Homo sapiens: one gene and its partners. The protein of the gene in region 1 interacts with the protein of each later gene in a pairwise test. Each region holds a gene or a part of one and is shown in the gene's direction. Other genes may lie near its edges.

Region 1 (3,651 bases):
TGCTGGGAGAGTAAATTGGTACAACTTTGGAGGGCATTTTTGGAAACACTTGTCAAAATTATAAACGCCCATGCCATCTGACCTAGTGATTCCATTTTTAGGAATTGAACTTGTTGTTAAACTTGCATATGGGCACAAAGATATATGTACATTATAGCACTGTTCGAACTGTGAAAGAACAACTTACATGCTTATCAAAGGGGGACTTGTTAAGTGTCTTATGGTACTTCCAGAGAGTCAAATAGCGTCCTATTCATTCATGGAAAAAAGAATTAGTAAGTTTACTATATAACTGATATGGAATGATTTCCAAGATATATGGCTAAGTGGAAAAAACAACATGCCTGGAGTGTTTATAATATGCTGCTGCTCGTGTTATACAAGAGGAAGGAGAGTCTTAGGGTATTTGCTTGTCTGTGTATAACTATAGACACAAAACCTAATCATACCTGTTACCTCCAGGAAAAGTGGCCTGTAAACCCTTTTGTACCTTTTGAATTCTGAACCATGGGAATACGTTAACTATTTTAAAATTCTCTTTGTCCGTCCTGTGCCTGGTATGTTCCCTCAAACACTTTTCCAGCTTAACATTGTGGGGTGACGTACCCCACCCCCTTTTGGTTGCTTGAGAGGTTCCCTTTGGATTAAAAGCCAAAGGGCTGTGAGACTGCACAGTGCCCATAGTATCTGGGCCATCCAGTATTCCTTTGAAATATACAGAGTTGTACTTGGAAAGCTGGGGAGAGGTGTCTTTGGACAGCAGGCTCTCTGAGCTGGGTAGGCAAGTTATGATCATCCAGCCTTGAAAACAATCTGCAGAAATAGAAACCACCCCTTTCTCTATTGCCCTAATGTTCCCTTGTACAGGATAAAGTGTCAGCGACTGGATAGGATTGGGTAAAGGAGCAAGAGGAACACTGTGACTGGACATCAGAAAGGGCAAAAGATACGTAGGAGGGCTATTTCTGGTGTTGCATTTGGACCTCAAAAAGGTGAAGAGAGAGATGCTTGGAAAAAAAAAAAAAAGGTTTGACATTATCCTAGAGTCTAGGGCTGTATTGCCCCAGAGAAAGAAGGAAGATTATTGGCGCAGTTGTCACTGCATCAATCAGTGTGTCCTACATGCCCCTTTGAGCATTTCTTATCAGCACAGATGCCCGGCTCAGTTCCCCCTACTTCCAAGCACCCATTTTTGCTGATCCCTCAGCCTGGAAGCCGATGGATACACAAAGGGGATGGGGGAGATATTAGGTACTGCCTTTCTTTTTGGGGTGGGTGATGGGACAGGCTGTTGAATAGCAGAAACAATGGAAGAAGGACTTGCTTCCAGCCACAAAAGATGGGTCCTCCAACACCATTAGGTGGAAAGCCTTCATTGAGAGCTTTCTATGTTTCAGTCACTCTGCTAAGCCTACACTATTTCATTGAATCTCTTTATCTCGGGTATATGTGAGAGCCCAGGCTCTTTGGTATCAAGCAGCATGTCTTTCTGCTCTCCCTTCACTGACTTTTCCATTCTCTACGCAGTAAGCTGCAGCACAGGCGCAACTGCATCACATGGGTGCTTACAGACCTGGTTTTGGGTTATAACAGTATGTGGCTGAGCATTGCATGCTTTGATGGATCAGTTGAAATTTCTGCAGTATGGATAGATTTGTACAAGGCACAGTTCAGAAACAAAGCAGTCAGTGTTCTGGGTTTGGATTTCCATTTCTCTTATTTCTGTTTCTGTGTGTGCATTAGGGCTGGGGCTGAGTAGACTGTGCATGTGATGTTCCTAGGGAAAGGGGGAGGAGGGGGAGGGGGAGGGGGAGGAGGAAGAGGACTAGGAGGAGGGCAGCTTCTCATTGCTTTGGTCCAGACACCAGTGGTGTGGAAGGCTGTGAAGATGAGCTTGTGAGGCCCTGTGTCTGCACCCAAGGAGAAAGGTCAGCAAGGTGGCCACTAAGCCCCAAGTCTGTGCTGGGAGTCTGTCTGTTGTTTGGAAAAAACAGCCTGAGACCTGAGAGCCTCTCTCATTGCAAACCTCCTCCCTCTCATTAGCCAGGGCTCACCTCTGACTCCGTTTCCACTTCAAAAGGAAACAGCTCTAATTTTCCCCAAATAAATTCTGGAACGCACAAGGCAGCTGCTTTTTCTTGTGCTGCTGTTGCCCACAGTGGTGGGAGCAAGAAGCTGGGTTGGGCTCTCAGGTAGGGCTGCCAGAACCCAGCAAGGAGAGGTAAAGTCAGGGAGCCCTATTAGTTTTTAAAAAAAATCACCTTAGGCCAAAAATAAAGATGTTTACATAGTATACAAGTAGTGGAGGACCAGTTTAACCACATCAAATTCAGAAAATGTCTGTTGTCAAAGCCCTGAGAACACAGAAGGATGAGCAAGGCATGGCCCCCAGGTTCAGGTTGCCCACGGGCAGTGCGGGAGAGGAACATTCACATCACCAGCAGTACTCTGCAGACTAAAGAAGCAAACACTAAGTAGAGGAGCAAGTGACATGCTGTCAGGTGCACAGGGCTAAAGTGAAGCAGAGACTGGCCCAAGGAACTCTGATAAATTATTAAGTCCGTCTTGGAGAAGGTGATTTTTGAACTGGGCCTTGAAGGTAAAGTAGTGATTTTGATACATAAGCTCAGGAGAAAGGGTGGAACTCAGACAACAGGTTGGGCAAAGACACAGGGTTACAGTAGAATACAGAGTGTTTTAAAAAGCCTTAGTAATTCGTCATTTACCTAACTTCTGCCACAGACATAATACGTGTCATTTTTAATTACTTGTAACATGAAACGTTTATATCCCCATAAAATAGTCAACTATGATTTTTCATGTGTGTGGTAAAATCAACAGGTATTGACAACAGGCATGTGAAATCAACATTTCTGTTGTATTTAAATATCCAGCTACTGTGTCACTGTGACTATTTCAGTGGGAAGGTAGCAGAACACTGGAGTAAGAGTGCTGGTGATGAGGATTCGAGTTCTGCCTCAGCATTTTATTTGTTTGTTTATTCTCTCATTCATCTACTCTTGCATTCCAAAAACATGATCTTTGTGCCTGGACCAAGTGGAGGGCTGATGATGGAGAGAGAGAAAAAAGGAAAAGCATGGTCTCTATACTCCCCAGGGACTCACAGTACATGGAAGAGATCACAGAAGAAGGTGGTAACCATCATAAAAGCAGGGATAAGGGGCTGTGGGAAAACCTAGTGTGTGCTCAATAAATAATGGTGGCTATAATGAATAAACAGCATGATAAGCAGTAGCAGACACCAACAAGAAGACAAATCAGAGGACTAAAAAATATTTCTCTGGATTTGGCCAGTGGGTCTCAAAAACTTGTTTATGTCATAAAACCCATGGAAACTGTGGGGCTTTTTGGAGAATACCATGAATTATTCATATATTAAAATAACTAAAAATAGGCCAGGCGCGGTGGCCTACGCCTATAATCCCAGTACTTTGGGAGGCCAAGGCAGGCGGATTGCTTGAGGTCAGGAGTTCGAGACCAGTCTGGCCAACATGGTGAAACTGAAACCCCACCTCTACTAAATATACAAAAAATTAGCCAGGCATGGTGGCATGTGCCTGTAATCCCAGCTACTTGGGAGGCTGAGGCAGGAGAATCGCTTGAACCTGGGAGGTAGAGGTTGCAGTGAGC
Region 2 (3,651 bases), on another chromosome or scaffold:
TGGCCTTATTTTAAATCACAACTATGGAGGAGCGCTGTTGTTTATAATTAACAAAGAAGAATTGACAAGAATTAGCTTTGTCCATGCCATCTTTAGACAATCATCACCTTTTGAATCCAGGGCAAATCATTCAGCAGAGTGTCCTATTTTCTCATTTTTGCCCTGTCTTTTGTAATCATCAGCCATTTGTCACTGATATTATTATGAATGTTGGCATGCCTGGCGGATGTCATGGTATGACCGATTCTCAGAACGACTACAAAAAAGGACTTCTAGCAGCATGAGTATAAAGGAGAAGTTACCTGTCTGAATGGCTGTGGGTTGCAGTAGCATTTTAGCTTGCGAAAATATTGAAAATAGAAAAGAGACTCATGCAGATTGCAAACCATATTTGTTATATTTATAGGGTCCGATTAAAGGAAGATTTGTAGGGTATGTTTTAAGAAATATCAAAACCTAAAGTAGTCTTCGTGGTTAGAGGAAACGCTTTTATGGTGTGTGTGTGTGTGTATGTGCATGTGTGTGTGTGTGTGTGTTCTTGTGCATACACACGTGTGTACATGTTGGATTTCTACTTATGGATTTCCTGTTACTGACAGATCTTTCAAGGTCCTTTAGCTAGAGAAATCATGTGTTTGAGAGGCATTTATTTTCACTGGAGGCAATCCTGATTCTGGTATTCCATTTTATTCAGGGCATCCTAGATACTTCAATCAACTTTCTACTGGTTTGGATATGGTTGGATTAGCAGCAGACTGGCTGACATCAACAGCAAATACTAACATGTAAGTAGCCAAATGTGTTTTTATGTAATTTAGGATAATTATTAGTGACATTCCATAGTCTTTACATCTTATGTGAAAATCTGTTTTTTATTAAGTAGCCACTAAAATAGTGATACAAACTTCTGAAGTGTGAGTGTTCACTTTAATGTAACAGAAAGTAGTCCTGATACATCTTCCATGTAATCAAACTCTACAAAATTTTTAAAATACAAAAGAGACTTTTTTCTCACGTTTGATTTATTATTGTGCATAATGTCAAAGACAAATGGGACCAGATATTATATTTTAAATCATGTTACTCTGCAATATTTTTTATTTATTCAATACAATAAATTCCCCTCGTGCATTATGTCAGTAGTTGGAGCTCTTGACTGTAGGGATATAGAAAAAATAAACATTTTGGAAGGCCTTTTTGAAATAATTTTCTCTCTGCTTAATGTTATAATCATAACACTTGTAAATGTATGTTTTGAAAAAGGAAATAGTTCTGTAGCTATTGTAATGATTGTAAATTATTTATCTGAGTTACAGAGGTAAAATGTGGCCATTACTACATTTCAGGTTCACCTATGAAATTGCTCCAGTATTTGTGCTTTTGGAATATGTCACACTAAAGAAAATGAGAGAAATCATTGGCTGGCCAGGGGGCTCTGGCGATGGGATATTTTCTCCCGGTACATGATATTTCAACTTTCTTTGTGTTTTTTCTTCTAATATGCAATGCCTTGTTGTAAACCTAGGGAAGATTAAAAATCTAGCCTATGCCTCTGCTTAGGTTAAATAGACTGTGTGTTGATCAAAAGAATGACTGTGATTAAGTGCACATGACCATTGAACATGCCTCCAAGCTAAGTAACCCATGCTTGAACATCAGTTATTTGTGTGCAAAGTGAGCATAATCAGAGATGGTACTTACCCAGTGCTTCTACTGTGACCCTACAAACAGGATGTACGGATAATGTGGAACAAAGGAATCAAGATTCCTAATCAGGAAATTCACTCTCTGATGCTCTTCCTAGAATTAGTGAAAGGAAATGGGTAGCCTCATTTAATAAAGCATTTGCTGTTCAAGGGTGCATAGCAAGGTATATCTACTCAGTAGAGCATATGGACCACTCTGTCTTTGAAATAACAAGCACCAAAGTGGATTTACACTAATTTCAAGGAGGACAGAGAACGCTTTGGGAGAGAATTTCTTAGAGCAAAAATAGAGGGTGACGATTTCTTCAAGAGATTTCTCATCCCTTCTCTTCTTTATCATGCCATTCAGTCTTTTCCATCCTGCCTTTTTATCACCAGCCATTGAATTCTAAGCTCCATTACTTAGACCTCTTCCAGCCAAGAGAATCAACCTGAAACAAAAAGCTGTGCCCTTGGTTTACAGTTCTGTGTGTGACCTTGGTTTGATGCAGAAAAGAAATAGAAGTTAGGAAGGCAATGCAAAGAGAGTCACTGACCCATGGAAAAGAAACCCGATGTGCAGACCATCAGCTAATCAGTGGCAGGAGCGGATGTCATTAGTCCACTGAGACAGGACCCACCTGAGAGAGAGGCCAGAGCAACACCTGTCGTTGTGTCAGACAGAGCAAAGGCCAAGTGGTTGTGCTCTCTCTTCAGCAAATCTACAAAGACAAGCAAATGATGAGGCGGGGATAGGGGAGAAAAGAAAAAGTGAAAAGAAGAAATGATAAGCAAGAGTGACCCCAAGGCCAGGGCTTAAGTTAAGCATGTTTGCCTGCAAGCTCTGGTCAGCTATTTTATGTGTTTAAATATATAGCACAATTTTTCAGGTGCTGAAGGAAAAGGTGTTAGTTAAATGGAAGGGAAAATTAGCCTTTTAAAAAGTCATTGAACACCAGCTGTGATGAATTTTAAGCTAGCCTTTATTTTTTATGGCACTTAGTACTTAGTTTTCCTTTGGAAAGCCATCCCTGTTGAGGGAGCTTGGTCATCATTGCCTGATGCTTTGAAAACATTGTTCATGAGGAATGAGGTGGGGTACAGAGATCCACATCATTTCTACCTTTCTTCTTCCCACCCTTGTGTGGTTGGTTATAGGATTGATCTGTCCCTGAGATGAATCAAGAACATGCTGGGCTCTATTTTTTTTTCTTTTATTTGCATTTATTTTATGCTGAATTTATTCCCGTGCATAAGTTTTAATGGTCCCCGGGAGTAGGGAGAGGACAGATGTACCTGTTGACCCTGAAAATTTGACTAATTTGACTAACAGCTAGGCCTAATTTACCTGGCTGGTCTGAAAAACCTACATGCCCCAGAAAACATACACCCAGAGAAATAATTCTCTTAGGCAGTTCTGCTAGGCTTAGAGCTTACCCTCCACCCTCACTGATAATGGGGGATTTTCACATGGAGAAGACTTCAGCTTGAGCATGGGAATTATAGGCTTCCTTGGAGCCTAAAGACCCATTTGCTCTTACGCCAAGATGCAAGCCATAGATGTCACACTACAGTGCAGTGCAGACATTGCAAAGTTGGGAGGAGACAGCAGAAAAGGTCATTGCAACCTGTTTCTGCTCTACTTTCTACAAGACATCACAGACGAGAAGTGGCTCATCACATCCTTACTGGCTATGGATGCTATTCCCGGGAGCAACCAGCCTTGCTCCTGCAGTAAAGGGTCTTACAATTTAAGGGGTGGGGATAGAGAAAGCCACACATCTTATGCATCTGGGATCTAAAAGTCTCATTCCCTGGGACTCAATGTGAAGAGTTAGGTCTGTGACTTAAAACATACTGTGTCATAGCTCCATCAATAATATCCAAAGCCTTCATGCTTCATGGAAAGTCCTTTAGGACTCCTAGAAGAAATCTGCTTTTGTGATGTCACCTACACTGGGAACCA
Region 3 (3,545 bases), on another chromosome or scaffold:
GCAGGTTCTGCTGTTCTGGAGGGCCTGAGTCCCACCCAGCACCTCATAAACAGGGTCCTCCCCAGGGCTGCTGCAGTAGGCATCAATGCCAGGGTGCAAAATGCCTCAGGGAGCCAAGGCTGAGCCAGGGGAGTGAGAAGGAGCATGTGGAAGTGCGTTTTGGAGAGGCAGCTGCGCAGGCTGTCAGCAGGCTCCGGCCGCTTCTATAGACAGCATGACACCAAGGGCAGTGACCTCATTCCACAGGCTGAGTCCAGCCAGCCAGCCAAGCATCACCAGCCAGACGATTGACCCTAACGGACCAACCAACCCGTAACGACCCCTCCTACCATAACCAGTAGCCAGCCAGCCCATAACCAGCCAACTTATCTATAACCAGCCACCTGACCATAGCCAAACAACCAGCCGGCCCACCAGTAGCATTCAGCCCCTCAGCTGGCCCTGAGGGTTTGGAGACAGGTCGAGGGTCATGCCTGTCTGTCCAGGAGACAGTCACAGGCCCCCGAAAGCTCTGCCCCACTTGGTGTGTGGGAGAAGAGGCCGGCAGGTGACCGAAGCATCTCTGTTCTGATAACCGGGACCCGCCCTGTCTCTGCCAACCCCAGCAGGGACGGCACCCTCTGGGCAGCTCCACATGGCACGTTTGGATTTCAGGTTCGATCCGACCGGGACAAGTTCGTCATCTTCCTCGATGTGAAGCACTTCTCCCCGGAGGACCTCACCGTGAAGGTGCAGGACGACTTTGTGGAGATCCACGGAAAGCACAACGAGCGCCAGGTGAGCCCAGGCACTGAGAGGTGGGAGAGGGGGGCGAGTTGGGCGCGAGGACAAGGGGGTCACGGCGGGCACGACCGGGCCTGCACACCTGCACCATGCCTTCAACCCTGGGAGAGGGACGCTCTCCAGGGGACCCCGAATCAGGCCTGGCTTTTCCCCAAGGGAGGGGCCGTGCCCACCTGAGCACAGCCAGCCCCTCCCGGTGACAGAGGTCACCATTCCCGAGCTAATGTGGCTCAGGGATCCAGGTTAGGGTCCCTTCCCGGGCTGCACCCAGCCGTCGCCAGCTCCATCCCTGTCACCTGGATGCCAGGGTGGTCTTAGAAAGAACCCCAGGAAGTGGGAGTGCCCCGGGTGGCCGCCTCCTAGCCAGTGTACATCTTCACATGAACCCTACCTGAGGAAGCCAGTCCCCGACGGCATAGCTGCATCCGCTTGGAATGCTTTACAGGCATTGACACCTTCGCCTCACAGCAGCACTTTGGAACCAGTGTCCTCATTATTCCAGGGCACGGCTGGGGAACAAGGGGGTCCTCAGCCTGCTGGGTCCCACAGCTAGTACCGGGCAGGTGGACGGGAGCTTCTCCCCACAGTCACCCTGATGCCCCGCTCTTGCTCGGCTGGAGGCCTCGGATCTCCGTGGTGTTGAGGGAGCCGGGGCACTGGAGCCCTGGTGACCTGCATCTCCTGGCGGAGCCGGGAAGAGCTCATGGACTGTCACAGATGGACAGTGCCCCGCGGGGGCTGGAGAGCAGAGTGGGGCTGGAAGGTGGAACTCTTAGCCAAAGTCTTGGTTTCTTTTGGCCAGGGTCCTCTTTCAATGGCTGGAGAAGGTGGTGCTGGGGGGTGAACGCTGACCTCCTCATGTGCTGCCCCTCCCTCGCCTGGGCCCGGTAAAGCCCCCACGTAGCCCCAGCCAGCCTGGAACATGCTTCCTGAGCTCCCAGCTCTTGGTCTTTGCACCCAGTGGAGGAGGAGGTCAGCCCAGGGAGCTGAGTCTGCGGTTTAGGGCGTCCAGGGGACGTGGAAGCATGTGGGTCGTCTGGCCACATTAGGTAGGGCTGCAGAGACCTGGGCTAGAGCAGTCCTGCGGGGTCTGGAAGGGGAAGACTGGCTGAGGTGCGGGGCCTGGTCTGGAATGATCCTGCGATTTTGGAGTGAAGCCATGGAGCGGGAAGAGACAACCCCCCGCGGGGAATAGCCCGGCAAGTGGCCACGAGGCCAGGCTGAGGTCCAGAGAAGCAGGGGCATGAATCCATAAATCCCAGGGGGCCTGGCCATGGGATGTGCTGGCTGCACCCGGCCCCTGTGAGAGCCCCCGCAGGCTGGCCCCCTTCTGCAGTCAGTGGGGCTGGGGCAGCTTCTCTGGCATGGGGCGAGGCAGCCGCCTGCACAGTGGCCCCCCTGACTGTGCGCCCCCACCCTCTCCAGGACGACCACGGCTACATTTCCCGTGAGTTCCACCGCCGCTACCGCCTGCCGTCCAACGTGGACCAGTCGGCCCTCTCTTGCTCCCTGTCTGCCGATGGCATGCTGACCTTCTGTGGCCCCAAGATCCAGACTGGCCTGGATGCCACCCACGCCGAGCGAGCCATCCCCGTGTCGCGGGAGGAGAAGCCCACCTCGGCTCCCTCGTCCTAAGCAGGCATTGCCTCGGCTGGCTCCCCTGCAGCCCTGGCCCATCATGGGGGGAGCACCCTGAGGGCGGGGTGTCTGTCTTCCTTTGCTTCCCTTTTTTCCTTTCCACCTTCTCACATGGAATGAGGGTTTGAGAGAGCAGCCAGGAGAGCTTAGGGTCTCAGGGTGTCCCAGACCCCGACACCGGCCAGTGGCGGAAGTGACCGCACCTCACACTCCTTTAGATAGCAGCCTGGCTCCCCTGGGGTGCAGGCGCCTCAACTCTGCTGAGGGTCCAGAAGGAGGGGGTGACCTCCGGCCAGGTGCCTCCTGACACACCTGCAGCCTCCCTCCGCGGCGGGCCCTGCCCACACCTCCTGGGGCGCGTGAGGCCCGTGGGGCCGGGGCTTCTGTGCACCTGGGCTCTCGCGGCCTCTTCTCTCAGACCGTCTTCCTCCAACCCCTCTATGTAGTGCCGCTCTTGGGGACATGGGTCGCCCATGAGAGCGCAGCCCGCGGCAATCAATAAACAGCAGGTGATACAAGCAACCCGCCGTCTGCTGGTGCTGTCTCCATCAGGGGCGCGAGGGGCAGGAGGGCGGCGCCGGGAGGGAGGACAGCGGGGTCTCCTGCTCGCGTTGGACCCGGTGGCCTCGGAACGATGGGGTCGCCTGCGTCCCTTCCTTCTCCTGAGCTCAAGCGCCTCCCTCCACACTGGGCTGGAAGGAGAGGTTTTGGGGGCAGAGCCTCTGATGGGAAAGGGACTGGGGAGCGGTTCCGAGAGCTGGGGGCGGGGAGGGACCTGGAAGGGGCTGCAGGGAATGGAGGGAGGCCGGGCTCCTTTCTCTGTCCGCGCCGGCACCGGGGCGGGACGCCAGCCCTGGCCTCCTTCTGCGGGGCCGTCCGGTTCTCTCGGGGTCTGCTGGGTCGTCCTGTTCTCTCGGGGGTCCTGCTGCCTTCGGGGCTGGGCTTTAAGGGCACTCGTGCTTTTGAGGAGCTGGAACTCGGCAGCTTCCCCTGGGCAACCCATCATGGCCCCGAGCTGGAGGCGGAAGCTCGCTCTGTCCCCTCCCGGGACCAGACACTGGGCGGCCATGCCAGACCCCGCCACGGGGAGGGAGACTCGGCCTGGGGGGCCCTGGCTGCCTGCT

What was found.
Region 2: the proteins of FAM163A (region 1) and GAD2 interact in binary tests that used the Homo sapiens proteins (3 or more experiments, as listed by UniProt).
Region 3: the proteins of FAM163A (region 1) and alpha-crystallin A2 chain interact in binary tests that used the Homo sapiens proteins (3 or more experiments, as listed by UniProt).

The regions. Positions count from the first base shown.
Region 1 is NC_000001.11:179,746,156-179,749,806, forward strand, and holds part of FAM163A (protein FAM163A), read left to right. Parts: intron 1-3,651.
Region 2 is NC_000010.11:26,223,193-26,226,843, forward strand, and holds part of GAD2 (glutamate decarboxylase 2), read left to right. Parts: intron 1-694; coding exon 695-785; intron 786-1,346; coding exon 1,347-1,459; intron 1,460-3,651. UniProt on the Homo sapiens protein: Catalyzes the production of GABA.
Region 3 is NC_000021.9:6,561,547-6,565,091, forward strand, and holds the end of alpha-crystallin A2 chain, read left to right. Parts: intron 1-373; exon of another isoform or gene 374-469; coding exon of another isoform or gene 470-547; intron 548-654; coding exon 655-777; intron 778-2,208; coding exon 2,209-2,418; 3' UTR 2,419-2,943; downstream 2,944-3,545. UniProt on the Homo sapiens protein: Contributes to the transparency and refractive index of the lens. In its oxidized form (absence of intramolecular disulfide bond), acts as a chaperone, preventing aggregation of various proteins under a wide range of stress conditions.